Linked DNA regions of Homo sapiens. The protein of the gene in region 1 interacts with the protein of each later gene in a pairwise test. Each region holds a gene or a part of one and is shown on either strand. Other genes may lie near its edges.

Region 1 (8,328 bases):
GCTCCATTGGCATGATTGTAGCTCACTGTAGTCTCAAACTCCTGGCTTCAAGCAATCTTCCTGCCTCAGCCTCCCAAGTAGCTGGGATATAGGCATGTGCCACCATGCCTGGCTAATTTTTAATTTTTTCTAGAGACAGGGTTTCTCTTTATTGCCCAGGCTAGTCTTGAACCGGCCTCAAGCAGTTCTCCCACCTCAGCCTCCCAAAGCACTGGGATTACAGATGTGAGCCACCACACCTGGCCATGTCACATTTTATTTTGCTGTATGTTTGGACCATGACTTTCTGGTACAACTTTCCCCCAACAGCTCTTAAAAAAAAAAAAAAAAAAAAACCCTAAAAATTAAAATACTTCATATATACAAAAGAATAAGTATGAACACTTACTATTTATTTATTTATTTTTGAGACAGAGTCTCCTCCCTCTGTCGCCCAGGCTGGAGTGCAGTGGCACAATCTCGGCTCACGGCAACCTTCGCCCTCTGGGTTCAAATGATTCTCCTGCCTCAGCCTCCTGAGTAGCTGGGACTACAGGTGTGTGCCACCACACCTGGCTAATTTTTTGTATTTTTTTTTTTTTTTTTTTTTTTTTGAGAGGGAGTCTCGCTCTGTCGCCGGGGCTGGAGTGCAGTGGCGCCATCTTGGCTCACTGCAAGCTCTGCATCCTGGGTTCATGCCATTCTCCTGCCTCAGCCTCCTCAGTAGCTGGGACTACAGGAACCTGACACCACGCCCGGCTAATTTTTTGTATTTTTAGTAGAGATGGGGTTTCACCGTGGTCTCGATCTCCTGACCTCGTGATCTACCGGCCTCAGCCTCCCAAAGTGCTGGGATTACAGGCGTGAGCCACCGCGCCCGGCCAATTTTTTGTATTTTTAGTAGAGACAGGGTTTCACTGTGTTAGCCAGGATGGTCTCGATCTCCTGACCTTGTGATCTGCCCACCTTGGCCTCCCAAAGTGCTGGGATTACAGGTGTGAGCCACCATGCCCAGCTCGAACACTGACTTTTTATAACTTGGTAATATAATGAGAATCTTTGAACCTACTATTCAATCTAAGAATACCTAATAAATAATTTGCATCTTTGTGCTCTCCCAAACCTGCTTATATACCTTTTTGTCCCACTGGAGATTTTAAATATCCTTTTAAAAAAATTATTCAAGGAAGACTAATACGCCCTTACTAAGTGTATTCAACCTCTCAACTGTACTCTCTTCACTAGAAACCCGGGAGGATTCCCTTCTTGGACCTTTTGGTCTGCTCTGATTTGCATCAGTTGTTCTTTAGATCTACTCCCTGTCATCTTGGGACTTGTCTTTACTGTGCTTTCTGGATTAGGTTAGCTGTTTCTCAAACCCCCTCAAATAACTTCTTCAGAAAAGATATAATGGAAAGTAAACTTGGAATTTTTGCATGCCTGAGAACTATTTTTATTTTGCTTTCGATCTTGATTGATGGCTCAGCTAGGTATTAAGTTGTAGGCTGAATATTATTTTCCTTCAAAATTTCAAAGGCCTTGCTCTCCTTTACTAGCATGCATCATTGTTAATGAAAAGTCAGAGAACTCTGAATTCTGCTCCTTACTATTACCTCCTCCTCTCTTCCCCTGAAATTTTACAGACCTTTGTTTAACTCTGGTATTCTGAAATTTCACAATGATGTGTTTAGGTATGTGTCTTTGATACTTGTTGAGCCCTTTCATTTTAGGTAGTACTTGAGTATCAGAAAAAGGATGGAAAAGATTTTTCACACACTAGAATAGGGTAGGGAACACATGGCTTTCCATTTGGAGGGGCTGGTGTGAACAAGAACATGGAGATTAGAAATGATACGACCATGACTTCGGGACAGAAAGGCTGATTTGCTTGACATATAAGGAAATAGAAATAAGATTGGGAAGATTGATGGATGTTGTCTCATGGAAGGCTATGACTTGACTGTTACACATTTAAAGTACATGTTCAGAAAGAGGCTATAATTGAAAGAAAGAAAGAGGCTCTAATTGTTTTCCTATTACATTTATCCATCACTATCTTCAAAGGATTGGTTCCAGGACCACCCACTACCCCTGCCCCTCTGTGCACAGTTTCCAAGAGATGCAGATGCCCAAGTCCCTTATATAAAATGGTGCAGTATTTGCATATAACCTATCCACATCTTCCCATATACTCTAAATCACCTGTAAATTACTTATAATACCTAATACAATGTAAATGCTATGTAAATAGTTGCTATAGGGTAATTTTTAAATTTGTGTTTTTCATTGTATTATTATTTACTTATATTTTGAATATTTTCTATCGATGGTTGATTGAACCCTAGGGTGTGCAGGGCCAACTGTAGATCACTCCTTAGTGATCATACTTCTTGCTTCCCTATTCCTGCTACCTCCCCAGCAACAGGATAAGACCTCGTCTAACCTACATGAAGCTGCTTCGGACTGTGTATGCTCAGCTCTCTATGCCATTGAGAATGTGGAGACTAACTTGCCATTAGCCATGCAACTTTTTCAGGGAGTGCTGACATTGGAGACTGCCTATCATATGGCCGTGGCACGTGAAGATTTAGACAAGTGAGTAATTGTTTAAGTCTGGAGCCCTGGGTTTACCTACAGTCTGGTCATTCTTTTAAGTCACTTTTTATTATTCGTCTGTCATTTGTGATTCTCAGTGATTCTGTAAAGTACAGATAGTGCTTCCTAAAGATGCTCTACTATGCTCTTCTGAACCTAGAGTGGCAAATTGGGTGCAGGGTTTGTAGAATTACCATAGAAAGGTAAGGCTTTAAAAGTTGGAGACAAATTTTAAAATATCAAGTGTGATTTGATGGGAGTTTTTATTCAAATGTTTTAATAATTGAGAATTTGAACTGACAAGTCACTTGCGTAGGAGTGTACGATCTAGGTAAAGGTGTCTGTCATGGGGATTGTGATACAGCATAGTAAATAATCACTAGATGTCCCTTAGACTGAGGAACCTTTTATTTATTTGATTAACTGTGCCTGTATATACTTATAATATCCAGATTTCTGACTCATTGTTCTCATTCCCCTGTCTTCTACAGAGTTCTGAATTACTGCCGTATTTTCACTGAACTATGTGAAACTTTTCTTGAAAAAATTGTTTGTACTCCAGGCCAAGGTCTTGGGGACCTTCGAACTCTGGAGCTGCTGCTTATCTGTGCAGGCCATCCTCAATATGAGGTAGTGTTTATGCTATTCAAAGGCCATTATTCTCCAAGTTGTGTGCTGCATATTATCTATATTTCATTACCTCGTGCCCAAATTTTTATTGTTGAGAAATTACAGTCTTGTTTTTAATTAATGTGATTTCATCTGTTTTGGAATTTTTTAAAAAAATTATATTTGGGTTTCTGCATTGTGTCCATTTCTGTTTTCTTACCTGGTTGGCTGGGCTGTTGTAGGCCCCTCAAGGAACTCGTTAGAAAGCAAGCCTTTCCAATGAACCCCTTGTCTAGCTTGACTTATTCTCTAGAGTGTTACAGCTAAAAAACACCAAATTCTAACTATACCTCCACAAGTCTTAACACCCCCAATTTTTCTCCAAATGATGGATGAGAATGACAAAGGGATTGAAAGGACTTAAGGGTCTCTGTCATTCAGAATCCTTGACATCCTACTTACCGAGGTTTGCTAGATTTTTTAAAATCTCATTTATTTGAGAAGTTTTACCTCTTTATAGTATAAGAAATGAGAAAGGGTCGGGGTTGGTGGCTCACACCTGTAATCCCAGCATTTTGGGAGGCCGAGGTGGGCAGATCACCTGAGGTCAGGAGTTTGAGACCAGCCTGGCCAACATGGTGAAACCCTGTCTCCACTAAAAATATAAAAATTAGTCAGGCGTGGTGGCTCACACCTGTAATATCCCAGCTACTTGGGAGGCTGAGGCAGGAGAATTGCTTGAACCTGGGAGGCAGAGGTTGTAGTGAGCTGAGATCGGGCCACTGCACTCCAGCCTGGGAGACGAGCGAAACTCCGTCTCAAAAAAAAAAAAAAAAGTGAGAAAGAAGTGCTCCCAAGTTGGGCATTGTTTTAAATAGCTCTGTTTTGGATCCTTGATGGGAAAAGGATGGTAGGGATCCTCTTACTGTGCCTTAGGCACAGTGGTCCTGTGACTCTCGGCCTGTTTTCTGTTATCACATACAAGACAACGTTTATTTGTTTTACATAATGTTACGAGGATACCTAGATTTGAATGGAACCCAAAACATTTCTGGGAGAATGTAACACCACGCAGTTATCACTCCTTTAAACAGTACCATATGGAAAAGAGGCTACGAGTAAAATCCCAGGCTTTTTCTCCCTTTCTCTCACACTCAAGGAAACAGGTGAATAAAAGTGACATGAAGCTGAATCAGTTATGTTCAGGAGTTACAGATGGTTTGCCAAGTAAGAAATGTTCTAATCTCAAACATTCAATGAAATGATTTCAGAATTTTCAGAAAAGTACTTTAAAAAAGACTTCTGGCCGGGCGCAGTGGCTCACGCCTGTCAGCACCTTGGGAGGCCGAGGTGGGCAGATCATAAGGTCAGGAGTTCAAGACCAGCCTGACCAACATGATGAAACCCCATCTTTACTAAAAATACAAAAATTAGCTGGGGTGATGGTGCGCACCTGTAATCGCAGCTACTCAGGAGGCTGAGGCAGGAGAATCACTTGAACCCAGGAGGTGGAAGTTGCAGTGAGCCAAGATCACACCACTGTACTCCAGCCTGGGTGACAGAGCAAGACTCCATCTCAAAAAAAATAAATAAATAAAAATAAAAAGACTTCTGGCTGGGCACAGTGGTTTATACCTCTAATGAGGTTCATACCTCTTAACACTTTTGGAGGCTGAGGTGGGAGGATTGCTTGAGCCCATGAGTTCGAGACCAGCCTGGGCAACAAAGCAAGACCTTGTCTCTACAGAAAATTTAAAAAATTAGCTGGGTGTGGTGGTGCACACCTTTCATCCCAGCTACTCAGGAGGCTGAATGGGAGGATCACTTGAGCCCAGGAGTTTGAGGCTGCAGTGAGCCATGATTACACCACTGTACTCCAGCCTAGATGGCAGAGCAAGACCCTGTCGCTACAGAAAATTTTAAAAATTAGCCAGACATGGTGGCAAGCGCCTGTAGTCCTCCTAGCTACTCAGGAGGCTGTGTGGAAGGATTGCTTGAGCCCAGAAGTTCAAGGCTGCAGTGAGCCATGATTGTGCCACTGTGCTCCAGCCTAGGCGACCCTGTCTCTAAAGAAAATATATATATCTTTTGAGACAGGGTCTCACTCTGTTGCCTAGGCTGGAATGCTGTGGTGCAATCACAGCTCACTGTAGCCTCAGCCTCCTGGGCTCAGGTGATCCTCCAACCTCAGCCTCCTGAGTAGCTGGGAATACAGGCATGTGCCACCTACATGCCTGGCTAATTTTTGTATTTTTTTAGAGATGGTGTTTCGCGCCTGGCTGAAATTTGTTTTAAATAAAATAAAACTATGTGGTGGCTCATGCCTGTAGTCCCAGCACTTTGGGAGACCTAGGTGGGAGGATTACTTGAGGGCAGGAGTTCAAAACCATCCTGAGCAAGATGGCAAGGCCCTGTTTCTACTAAAAAAAAAAAAAAAAAAAAAAATTAGCTGAGCTTGGTGGTGTGTACCTGTAGTCCCAGCTACTTGGGAGGCTGAGGCAGGAGGATCACTTGAGCTCAGGAGTTTGAGGCAGCAGTGAACTGTGTTCATTCCACTGCACTCTAGCTGGGGCAACAGAATGAAACTCCGTCTCTAAAAAATAAATAAAAATAAAGACTTCCATGTCTGTTATTGTTTTCTCTAAATTCAAAATTCAGTATACTTTTGGAGGCATTACCTCAGGACTAAATGGAATGTAAAGCCAGTCATTCTAAATGGAGATTTGGGCCTAACGTGGGAAGACAATTTGGGGAGATAATAGTAAATCTGCTAGAGAAAAGGTGACTTCTTAACTGGCTCCACTCATATTATTTAAAAATATATCTTTCTTCCTATATGGTCGTGGTGATAATAAAATGTCTTCTTATTCTATTCCTTTCCCATTCAAATAAATCATCTCTTTTAACCTAACAGGTAGTAGAAATTTCATTTAACTTTTGGTACCGACTGGGGGAACATTTGTACAAAACTAACGATGAAGTTATTCATGGCATCTTCAAAGCTTACATTCAGAGGCTGCTTCACGCCTTGGCTCGACACTGCCAGCTGGAACCAGACCATGTAAGTTCCCTTCTCTACCTCTTCAAATCTTAATTTCTTCCTCTTGTCAGTGCCAACTTGAAAAGGAACTGAGAAGATAGATAATAAACCTGGCTGGGCACCCTGGCTCATGCCTGTAGTCCAGCACTTTGGGAGGCCAAGGCAGATGAATCGTTAGAGCCCAGGAATTCAAGACCAGCCTGGGCAACATAGGGAATCCCCTGTCTCTACAAAAAGAAATAAAAGAAAATTAGCTGGGCCTGGTGGCACACGCCTGTAGTCCTAGCTACTCAGGAAGCTGAGTTGGGAGGATTGGCAGACTCTACAGCTTATACTGAAGAAGTCAGTACCAGTATAATCTGTTAGGTCTATTTAGGGAAAAAAAAAAGCAAAACACTCCAGCTAAACCAGTAATTCTTTTCCTGGGAGTATATCTTAAATCTGCAGAAGAAAAAAACAGCTATTTTATATACAAAATGTTATCTGTAAAAGTAAAAATTATAAACCCATGTACAGCAGTATAACAAGAGTTATATGAATTATATAAGAAGAGTTATGATTTAGCAACTTGATGCAGCAATTAAAAGGTAGTGAAATGATGATATGGTAAGAGAAAAATCAGAATGTAAAATTATGTACTCTTTTTTTTTTTTTTTTTTTTTTTTTTGAGACGGAGTCTCGCTCTGTCACCCAGGCTGGAGTGCAGTGGCGTGATCTCTGCTCACTGCAAACTCTGCCTCCTGGGTTCACGCCATTCTCCTGTCTCAGCCTCCCGAGTAGCTGGGATTACAGGCACCCGCCACCATGCCAGGCTAATTATTTGTATATTTAGTAGAGATGGGGTTTCACCGTGTTAGCCAGGATGGTCTCGATCTCCTGACCTCATGATCCACCCACCTCAGCCTCCCAAAGTGCTGAGATTACAGGTGTGAGCCACCGCCCCTGGCCAAAATTTTGTACCTTATTAAATAGTAGAAAATAAGTGGTTAGATGAAAACTAATACAAAAGTGAAATATTTGTGTGTATGATTTTGCCCCATGAAGATACACATTTTTTAAATCTTATTTATACTGATTTTGTAGTTTAAAAGAATATAGAAATCTATTTGCTTAGAAAAAAATACTAGAAAATTATTAGTTTATTAGAAAACTCTTCAAACATCATGCTTAGTCTCTTCAAATTTTGCCACATCGATTTCATCCTGTTGGTTGGTTGAATCCGTCCTTTAATCTAGGACCTGCAGTAAGTTTTATTGCTTACAATTAAATCCCACGTGCTGTTCTCTTAATTTTAATGTTAGTATTGTGTTTGAGTCATGGTATTTTGTATCTCCACACAACCTTAGTCATGATTTAGTCTGGTGGTTTTCAAACTGCACCCACCCCCGCTATTTTTTAAAGTGAAGAATCCAACTGGGCGTGGTGGCTCATGCCTGTAATCCCAGCACTTTGGGAGGCCGAGGCGGGTGGATCACTTGAGGTCAGGAATTTGAGACCGGCCTGGCCAACGTGGCAAAACCCCGTCTCTACTAAAAATACAAAAATTAGCTGGGCATGGTGGCAGGTTCCTGTAATCCCAGCTACTCAGGAGGCTGAGGCAGGAGAATCACTTGAACCCAGGAGGTGGAGGTTGCAGTGAGCCAAGATTGCGCCACTGCACTCCAGCCTGGGCAGTAGAGCAAGACTCAGTCTCAAAAAAATAAAATAAAGTGAAGACTCCTGTCTTCAACCACATTTTACTTGGAAGCCTGATTTATAAAGCAGGGCCCCTTTGGTTTAAATGGCTCTGTGCTTGATCCCTTTTTTGCCTTTGCTAATTCTGTGGCACCATTTCCCTTGCGGGTAATTTCTTACACTTGTAAGTGTATAGCGCTTTATAATTTGTATAGTGCTTTATAATGTTAGCCATTATCTCATCTGAGATAGCCATCGTTTCCTCCTCATTCCTTCACCTTAATTTCTTCATCTTAAAGCAAGGAGCTTGAACTAGATTAGCAATTCTCAATAGTACTAAGGGCTTTTCCTAGGTATTTGGGCCCAAGATTCTTGTACGTGCCTTTAACCATCTTATAATTGGTAACTCTGTTTACAGAAGTGTGTCAGAA
Region 2 (8,328 bases), on another chromosome or scaffold:
GGCTACTTCTTAGGCTGCAGAAAGTACCTCACATTTTCCTTTTGTGCAGGGAAAAATCGCAAGGCAGCTTCTGGGTGTTCTGCTCTTCTGTATCCTGTCAGGGCTGAGGGCAGGGACTGGCCACAGTGGAGCTTATACCTGGATCCTGCACGTTTCTCTCCCTTAGGCTTCTGTTCTGATGAGCCCAACTGTCTCTGTGGCATCCCGGCAACCCCCCTACCCCCACCCCACACACACCCACCCTACCTTCTCTCGGCTTGTCTCTTCCTTTTTTTTTTTTTTTTTTGAGTCAGTCTCAGTCTGTCACCTAGGCTAGAGGGCAGTAGTGCAATCATAGCTTACTGCAGCCTTGAATTCCTGGCCTCAAGCAATTCTCCAGCCTTAGCCTCCCAAAGTGTTGGTACTACAGACATGAGCCACCATACCAGGCCCAAGCTTGTCTCTTAAGGAATAAACATTTTGCTTCTTTCTAGGTTTCAAGGCCACCCTCCCACCTTTCATGTGTAATAAACGGGCCGAAGACTTCCAGGGGAATGATTTGGATAATGACCCTAACCGTGGGAATCAGGGTGAGTAGATGGGAAGGGGCTGGAAAGGGTCTCCTCAAGCCCAGCTGCTTTTCAGCTCAGCTACCTGAGAAAGATCCTCAGGCATTTGTTCCCTCATACACATCAGGGCTGAGTGAAAAAAAAAAAAAAAATTGCATGCAGAAAGTTAACTACAGAGGCCATTCATATAAAATTTTAAAACATGCAAAAGAAGAATATATATTTTATGGATAATAAGTAAATGGTAAATGTATACAAACATGAATGTGAATAAAAAGCCATCAAATTAAGGTGACTGGCTGTAAGTGGAGGAGGGAGGGAGGGCGGGCAGGGATTACTGAGTGCGGCACAGACAGCTTCAGCTGTGACTTGTTGATAGTGTGTTTTGTTTGTTTTTGTTTTTGAGATGGAGTTTCACTCTTCTCGGCCAGGGTAGAGTGCAATAAGGCAATCTCAGCTCACTCCAACTTTCACCTCCTGGGTTCAAGTGATTCTCCTGCCTCAGCCTCCCGAGTAGCTGGGGTTACAGGCACGTGCCCCCACACCCAGCTCATTTTTTAATTTATGGTAGAGACGGGGTTTCACCATGTTGGCCAGGCTGGTCTCAAACTTCCTGACCTCAGGTGATCCACCCGCCTCAGCCTTCCAAAGTGCTGGGATTACAACTGTGAGCTACCACGCCCGGCCTATTTGCAGTTTTTCTAATATTCTGAATAAATAAATCAGACCTAACATAGCTGTGGGGTAATGTTGAGATCCGACTGGACTCAATATTATTCCCCATACTTTTCTGTGTGTTTGAAATATTTCTTTTTTAAACGACATGTTGTTCTTCCTAAGCACCGTTAATGAATCAAAGGACTGCTAAAAAAATGCTACAAGTGAAAAAAAAAAAAGAAAGAAAGAAAGAAAGTGTTAAAACTGTAGATCCGCCAAAAACTTCCAGAGTTTGTTTCATTAACAGCATGTAGGTATTGGATAGGTATCTTAGGAGTGAGGGTGATGAACACATTATGTAATAAAGATCGCTGTTTCTCTGTATTGGTTTATCAAAACCAAATAGTCTTCTCATTCCCAAAGAACCCTGATTCTCCGTAATGAGCTTGGAAGAGAGTTTGAAGGAGTGATCCCTTATCCAACACACAGAGAGCTTTCCCACTTGTCAGAGAGCAGAGATAACATAGGGTGAAAAAAAGATAGGTTCTTGGGTAGAGAGCTTTGTACATTTCAGGAATATAAAGGGGACATATGTATTTACTTGCTCTTCTACTCTGACAACATAATTATAAGACAAGGTCAGAATGTCCAAACCGTCTCCAATAGACCTATTACTCGCCAACTAAACAGGCCAGATTCTACAATCTCCCGCAATCACTATAAGAGACCTGAAAAGCCAGTGCTTGAGTATCTGCCAAGTTTTGACAGTAAAGGAGTGTCTTTATACTGAAAATATTTCAGAGCCACTGGACCAAATCATCCATGGTTCATCACACATTTAACAGCTTAATTCACATACCATAAGATTCACCCATTTGAAGTGTACAATGATTTTCAGTTGTTGCACATCTTGAGTGGATACAGTTCAGATTCCTAACCAATCAATTTAATTATTTGGGAAAAAGTAAAAGATATGTAATGGAATAAGATGAGACTGTGATGGGGTGTAGTCCCCATGTGATAAACCATGAGATGGAAAATTCTGAATTGATGCCACAGATAAATGCACCAACCATGACTAAACATAATTCAGAAGCAAATCTGAAATAACTCCTCAACAATGAGTGGACTCATAACCCTCTGCTGCAGAATACCCTGATGCGACAGAAGTCTCTCTAGAGTTTGGAAACCTTTACCAACAAAGAAAAATTCTGATGTATTCTCTTTCAGTTGAACGTCCTCAGATGACTTTCGGCAGGCTCCAGGGAATCTCCCCGAAGGTGAGTGTCTCTCAGATCTAAAGGACCAGAGAACCTTTGTCCCTCCACGGATGCGAACACTGGTAAGAGTGGGAGAATATCAAAAATGCCCTCACTGCCTTCTTCTCCCCATGTCTATCACAACACCTGATGTCGCACCGACGGCTTGATAGTACCAACAGTTGCGATTGTTAATACTTCTTTTGTTTTCATAGTGATGCCAGATACTATTTCAAGCAGTTCACATGGATTAATTTATTTAATCCTTAAGAAGACATTGTTTCTATTATCTCCAAATAATAATGAGTCACACACTTCAGTTTTCATCCATATGAAAGCCATGTGACTTGACACAAATCTTCTAAGTTCTCTGAGCTCCAGATTCCTGGTCCATGAAATGGAAGTAAAGAATTATAGTTCATGTTTTAGATCATAGTTATCAGCAACATAATAATAAAATGAGGCTATCGTGGTACAGAGATGTTAAAGAATTTTCCTGGGGCGCAGTGGCAGTGGTAGTCTAATCCAGAGCTCCAAGCCATTTAAAGCTCATTCACATTTGCATTTGTCTATGAAGTTCAGATGTTGCTCACTAGGGCTTCACCCCATAGGGCCTGCTGGTGCTTCCAATGAGACACCCACTCTCTCAACAGGAAGGACCATCTGGTCTCTGCTGTGTTGCTGGGGCCACTTGCATGGCTTAGGAATCACTTTGATTGTTGGCCCCTCCCTACTGTGAGCTCCTTGAGTGCCTTGTCTGCACCTGGGGCATCTGGGAAGGCCCAGTCCCAGCCCAGGGGATCCCTCGGAGGCCCCTGAATGAGTGATCCCACAAGTGCAGATTCAACTCTGGTTTGGAGGGTAAAGGGATCTGGGAGTTGGGTTGCCAGTGTGGAGACTGAATTCAAAGAAGGATTGTGAAAGGTATTAATTGTTATTATTACGACATTTAAACAGTGTTTACAAGCTCAGAGAGGACTTTACTGTAGGCTATTTGACATGTATGGTTCACTATTTCATAAGGGAGGAAGCTGAATGAAAAGTAGCTTAAGAGCCGGGCGCGGTGGCTCACGACTGTAATCCCAGCACTTTGGGAGGCTGAGGCGGGCAGATCACGAGGTCAAGAGATCGAGACCATCCTGCCCAACATGGTGAAACCGTGTCTCTACTAAAAATACAAAACTTAGCGGGGCGTGGTAGTGCCTGCCTGTAGTCCCAGATACTCTGGAGGCTAAGGAAGGAGAATCGCTTAAACGCGGGAGTCGGATGTTGCCTTGAGCCGATATCATGCCACGGCACCCCAGTCTGGCGACACAGTGAGACTCCGTCTCAAAAAAAAAAAAAAAAAAAAAAAAAAAGAAAGAAAGAAAGAAAAAAAAAAGTAGCTTAAGATTGTTGGTCAGTGACACATCCCAATGCAACCAGAATTGGTATGGGTACCACCTCACTGAATTCCACATTGAATGTCGGTGCCCCAGTAGGGTAGTATGTCATATCTGGTACTGCTTTGTTTGCTGCCTAGATTAATTTCGGCAAACCATTTCTTTCCCTCTCCCTTCCCTGTATTCATCTCCCCACACCATCTTTCCCAGCAGTGTTTTGTCGCCTCCCTATGTTTTTACATTTACTCTCCCAGCAGCTGTCTAGAAGCTTATATGGGATCCCTTGTATTTTACAGAACCTCTTCCCTTTGTAGACCTTGTGAATTCTTAGAATGCTACTCTTCTCCAAATCATCTGTATATCACACTCTCAATTACATGGAGATTTTTGCTGTTTGCAAGAATGTCAGTCCTAAAAGAGTGGGAAGATAAGCATTCTATCCCTGGAAACCATATTCACTTAGGCCATTCCTTTCCCTTCTAACCTCCCCTCCCAGGTTTCTCCTAATTTAGGCCTGTGTAACTCTCCCAGTGTTGTTGAGAACATTGAATAAGCTAATGCATGTGAAGACCCTTTGTAAGCTCAAAAGCACTATAGATATGTCACTGATACTATTTATCTGTGATCTTCACATTATAAAGATCATGCCCAAGAAGCCAGCAGAGGAAGGAAATGATTCGGAGGAAGTGCCAGAAGCATCTGGCCCACAAAATGATGGGAAAGAGCTGTGCCCCCCGGGAAAACCAACTACCTCTGAGAAGATTCACGAGAGATCTGGTAAGAGGAAGCAATTCAGGAACAATCCCTCTGGCTTCCCTGGCGATGTTCAGGTATATGGACTGGGTGTGTGGCATGGATCCCAGATAACCCTGGGTCCAGACTGGGCTGAGGAGCTCGCCCAGCTCCAGATGAGATGTTAGACATGACTTCCAGAGATAGACTTGATTTGTCACCCATAGAAAAAACCATGTGACTTGGGGCAAGTCTTTCAGATTTTCTCAGCTCCAGATTCCTAGTCCGTAAGATGGAAATAAGGAATCATAGTTCATAAATTGTTTGGAGACATTAAATTTAATCTAGAAGGCCTGATGACATGAAAGGTGCTCAAGCAATTCTATCTGTGATTACCTGGGATCATTACCTGATTAAGACTCAGCTCAATGCCATGCCTGTTACCCAATACAGGTGTACTTCAGAGATACTGCAGGTTCAGTTCCAGACCACTGCAATAAAGTGAGTCACACACGTTGTTTTTTGGTTTGGCAGCGCATAAAAACATTATGTTTATACTATAGTGTAGTCTACTAAGTGTGCGATAGCGTTGTGTCTAAAAATGTATATACCTTAATTTAAAAATAATTCTTTGTTAAAAATGCTAACAATCTTCTGAGCCTTCAGTGAGTCACACTCTTTTTGCTGGTGGAGGGTCTTGCCTCGGTGTTGATGGCTGCTGGCTGATCAAGGTGGTGGTTGCTGAAGGGTGGAGTGGCTGTGGCAGTTTCTTAAAAGAACACAACAGTGAAATTTGCCACATCGATTAGCTCTCCGTTTCATGAAGGATTTCTCTGTAGTATGTGATGCTATTGGATAGCATTTTACCCACAGTAGAACTTCTTTCAAAGTTGAAATCAATCCTCTCTAGCTATGAAAGTCCTAGAAGGCATCTCCTTCCAATAGAAGGCTATTTTATCTACATTGAAAATCTGTTGTTTCATGTAGCCACCTTCAACAGTGATCTTAGCTAGATCTTCTGGATAACTTGCTGCAGCTTCTCCATCAGGGTTTGCTGCTTCACCTTGCACTTTTATGTTATGGAAACGGCTTCATTCCTTAAACCTCATGAACCAACCTCTGCTAGCTTCACATGTTTCTCCTGCAGCTTCTTCACCTCTCTCAGCATTCATGGACTTGAAGAGAGTTCTGGTCTTGCTCTGAATTAGACTTTGGCTTAAGGGAATGTTGTGACTGGTTTCGTCTTCTATCCTGACCACTCAGACTTCCTCTATTTGAGCAGTAAGGCAGTTTTGCTTTCTTATTCGTGTGTTCACTGGAGTATTAGTATTATTATTTCCTTCAAGAACTTTTCCTTTGCATTCACAGCTTGGCTGTTTGGCGCAATAGGCCTAGCTTTCAGCCTGTCTTGGCTTTCAGCATGCTTCCTCACTAAGCTTAGCCATTTCTAGCTTGTGATTTAGAGTGAGAGACATGCGACTCTTCCTTTCATTTGAACACTTAGCGGCCATTGTAAGGTTGTTAATAATCCTCATTTCAGTATTGCTGTGTCTCAGGAAATAGGGAGGCCCAAGAAAAGGAAGAGAGACGCGGAACAGCTCATCGGTGGAGCAGTCAGAACACACACAACATTGGTCGATTCAGTTTGTCAACTTCTATGGGTGCAGTTCATGGTACCCCCAAAACAATTACACACAACAGGGTGATTATAGTCAATAATAACTTAATTGTACATTAAAAAAAAAACTAAAAGTGTAAATGGATTGTTTGTAACACAAGGATAAATGCTTGAGGATGGATACCCTATTTTCCATGATGTGATTATTACCCATTGCATGCCTGTATCAAAGCATCTCATGTACCCCATAAGAATATACACCTGCTGCGTACCCACAAAATAAAGAACAAAAATTATTTTAAAACACTAAAAAACAATAAAATCAATTGCAGTAATAATATCAAAGCTCACCGATCACAGATCACTATAGCAGATATAATAATAATGGAAAAGTGTAAAATTGGTGAGAATTAAAAAAAAAAATTGCAGCATCTGCGAAGCAGTATGAACATGAGGTGCAACAAAACAAGGTACGCCTGTGTGGCCTTAACAAATACGTGCTGGATGAAAGGAGGTATGGGGGAATGTTCCCGTAAGTGAAGAGGTTGGGAATCTAAGCCTGAGAAGGGAAGGAGCCAGAAGCTAAAACTTTAATTGGCATTTGGCCTATGTTGGTGTGGATCTAAGGTCTCAGCCTCTCTAAGCCAGAGAATGTGAAAAACTGGATGAAGAAGGCCCATGGGCACTTGGGAGGAAGCAGGCATCTCCTTTTTTTGAGTAAACAGAGCCTAACACTCTCCAACCTACCCAACCCTCACTTTCCAACTATTCTCCATCACAGGACCCAAAAGGGGGGAACATGCCTGGACCCACAGACTGCGTGAGAGAAAACAGCTGGTGATTTATGAAGAGATCAGCGACCCTGAGGAAGATGACGAGTAACTCCGTAAGAGAACCTTCCACTCATCCCCCACATCCCTGCAGACGTGCTATTCTGTTATGATACTGGTATCCCATCTGTCACTTGCTCCCCAAATCATTCCCTTCTTACAATTTTCTACTGTACAGCATTGAGGCTGAACGATGAGAGATTTCCCATGCTCTTTCTACTCCCTGCCCTGTATATATCCGGGGATCCTCCCTACCCAGGATGCTGTGGGGTCCCAAACCCCAAGTAAGCCCTGATATGCGGGCCACACCTTTCTCTAGCCTAGGAATTGATAACCCAGGCGAGGAAGTCACTGTGGCATGAACAGATGGTTCACTTCGAGGAACCGTGGAAGGCGTGTGCAGGTCCTGAGATAGGGCAGAATCGGAGTGTGCAGGGTCTGCAGGTCAGGAGGAGTTGAGATTGCGTTGCCACGTGGTGGGAACTCACTGCCACTTATTTCCTTCTCTCTTCTTGCCTCAGCCTCAGGGATACGACACATGCCCATGATGAGAAGCAGAACGTGGTGACCTTTCACGAACATGGGCATGGCTGCGGACCCCTCGTCATCAGGTGCATAGCAAGTGAAAGCAAGTGTTCACAACAGTGAAAAGTTGAGCGTCATTTTTCTTAGTGTGCCAAGAGTTCGATGTTAGCGTTTACGTTGTATTTTCTTACACTGTGTCATTCTGTTAGATACTAACATTTTCATTGATGAGCAAGACATACTTAATGCATATTTTGGTTTGTGTATCCATGCACCTACCTTAGAAAACAAGTATTGTCGGTTACCTCTGCATGGAACAGCATTACCCTCCTCTCTCCCCAGATGTGACTACTGAGGGCAGTTCTGAGTGTTTAATTTCAGATTTTTTCCTCTGCATTTACACACACACGCACACAAACCACACCACACACACACACACACACACACACACACACACACACACACACCAAGTACCAGTATAAGCATCTGCCATCTGCTTTTCCCATTGCCATGCGTCCTGGTCAAGCTCCCCTCACTCTGTTTCCTGGTCAGCATGTACTCCCCTCATCCGATTCCCCTGTAGCAGTCACTGACAGTTAATAAACCTTTGCAAACGTTCCCCAGTTGTTTGCTCGTGCCATTATTGTGCACACAGCTCTGTGCACGTGTGTGCATATTTCTTTAGGAAAGATTCTTAGAAGTGGAATTGCTGTGTCAAAGGAGTCATTTATTCAACAAAACACTAATGAGTGCGTCCTCGTGCTGAGCGCTGTTCTA

The links. Proteins that work in one complex are often made in the same cells at the same time.
Region 2: the proteins of TNPO3 (region 1) and SSX2 interact in binary tests that used the Homo sapiens proteins (3 or more experiments, as listed by UniProt).

What each region holds. Positions count from the first base shown.
Region 1 is NC_000007.14:128,995,305-129,003,632, reverse strand, and holds part of TNPO3 (transportin-3), read left to right. Parts: intron 1-2,398; coding exon 2,399-2,574; intron 2,575-3,065; coding exon 3,066-3,204; intron 3,205-4,342; exon of another isoform or gene 4,343-4,410; intron 4,411-6,097; coding exon 6,098-6,244; intron 6,245-8,328. UniProt on the Homo sapiens protein: Importin, which transports target proteins into the nucleus. Specifically mediates the nuclear import of splicing factor serine/arginine (SR) proteins, such as RBM4, SFRS1 and SFRS2, by recognizing phosphorylated SR domains.
Region 2 is NC_000023.11:52,696,738-52,705,065, reverse strand, and holds the end of SSX2 (protein SSX2), read left to right. Parts: intron 1-473; coding exon 474-569; intron 570-2,435; coding exon 2,436-2,485; intron 2,486-4,487; coding exon 4,488-4,623; intron 4,624-6,134; coding exon of another isoform or gene 6,135-6,280; intron 6,281-6,977; coding exon 6,978-7,078; 3' UTR 7,079-7,082; intron 7,083-7,547; 3' UTR 7,548-8,170; downstream 8,171-8,328.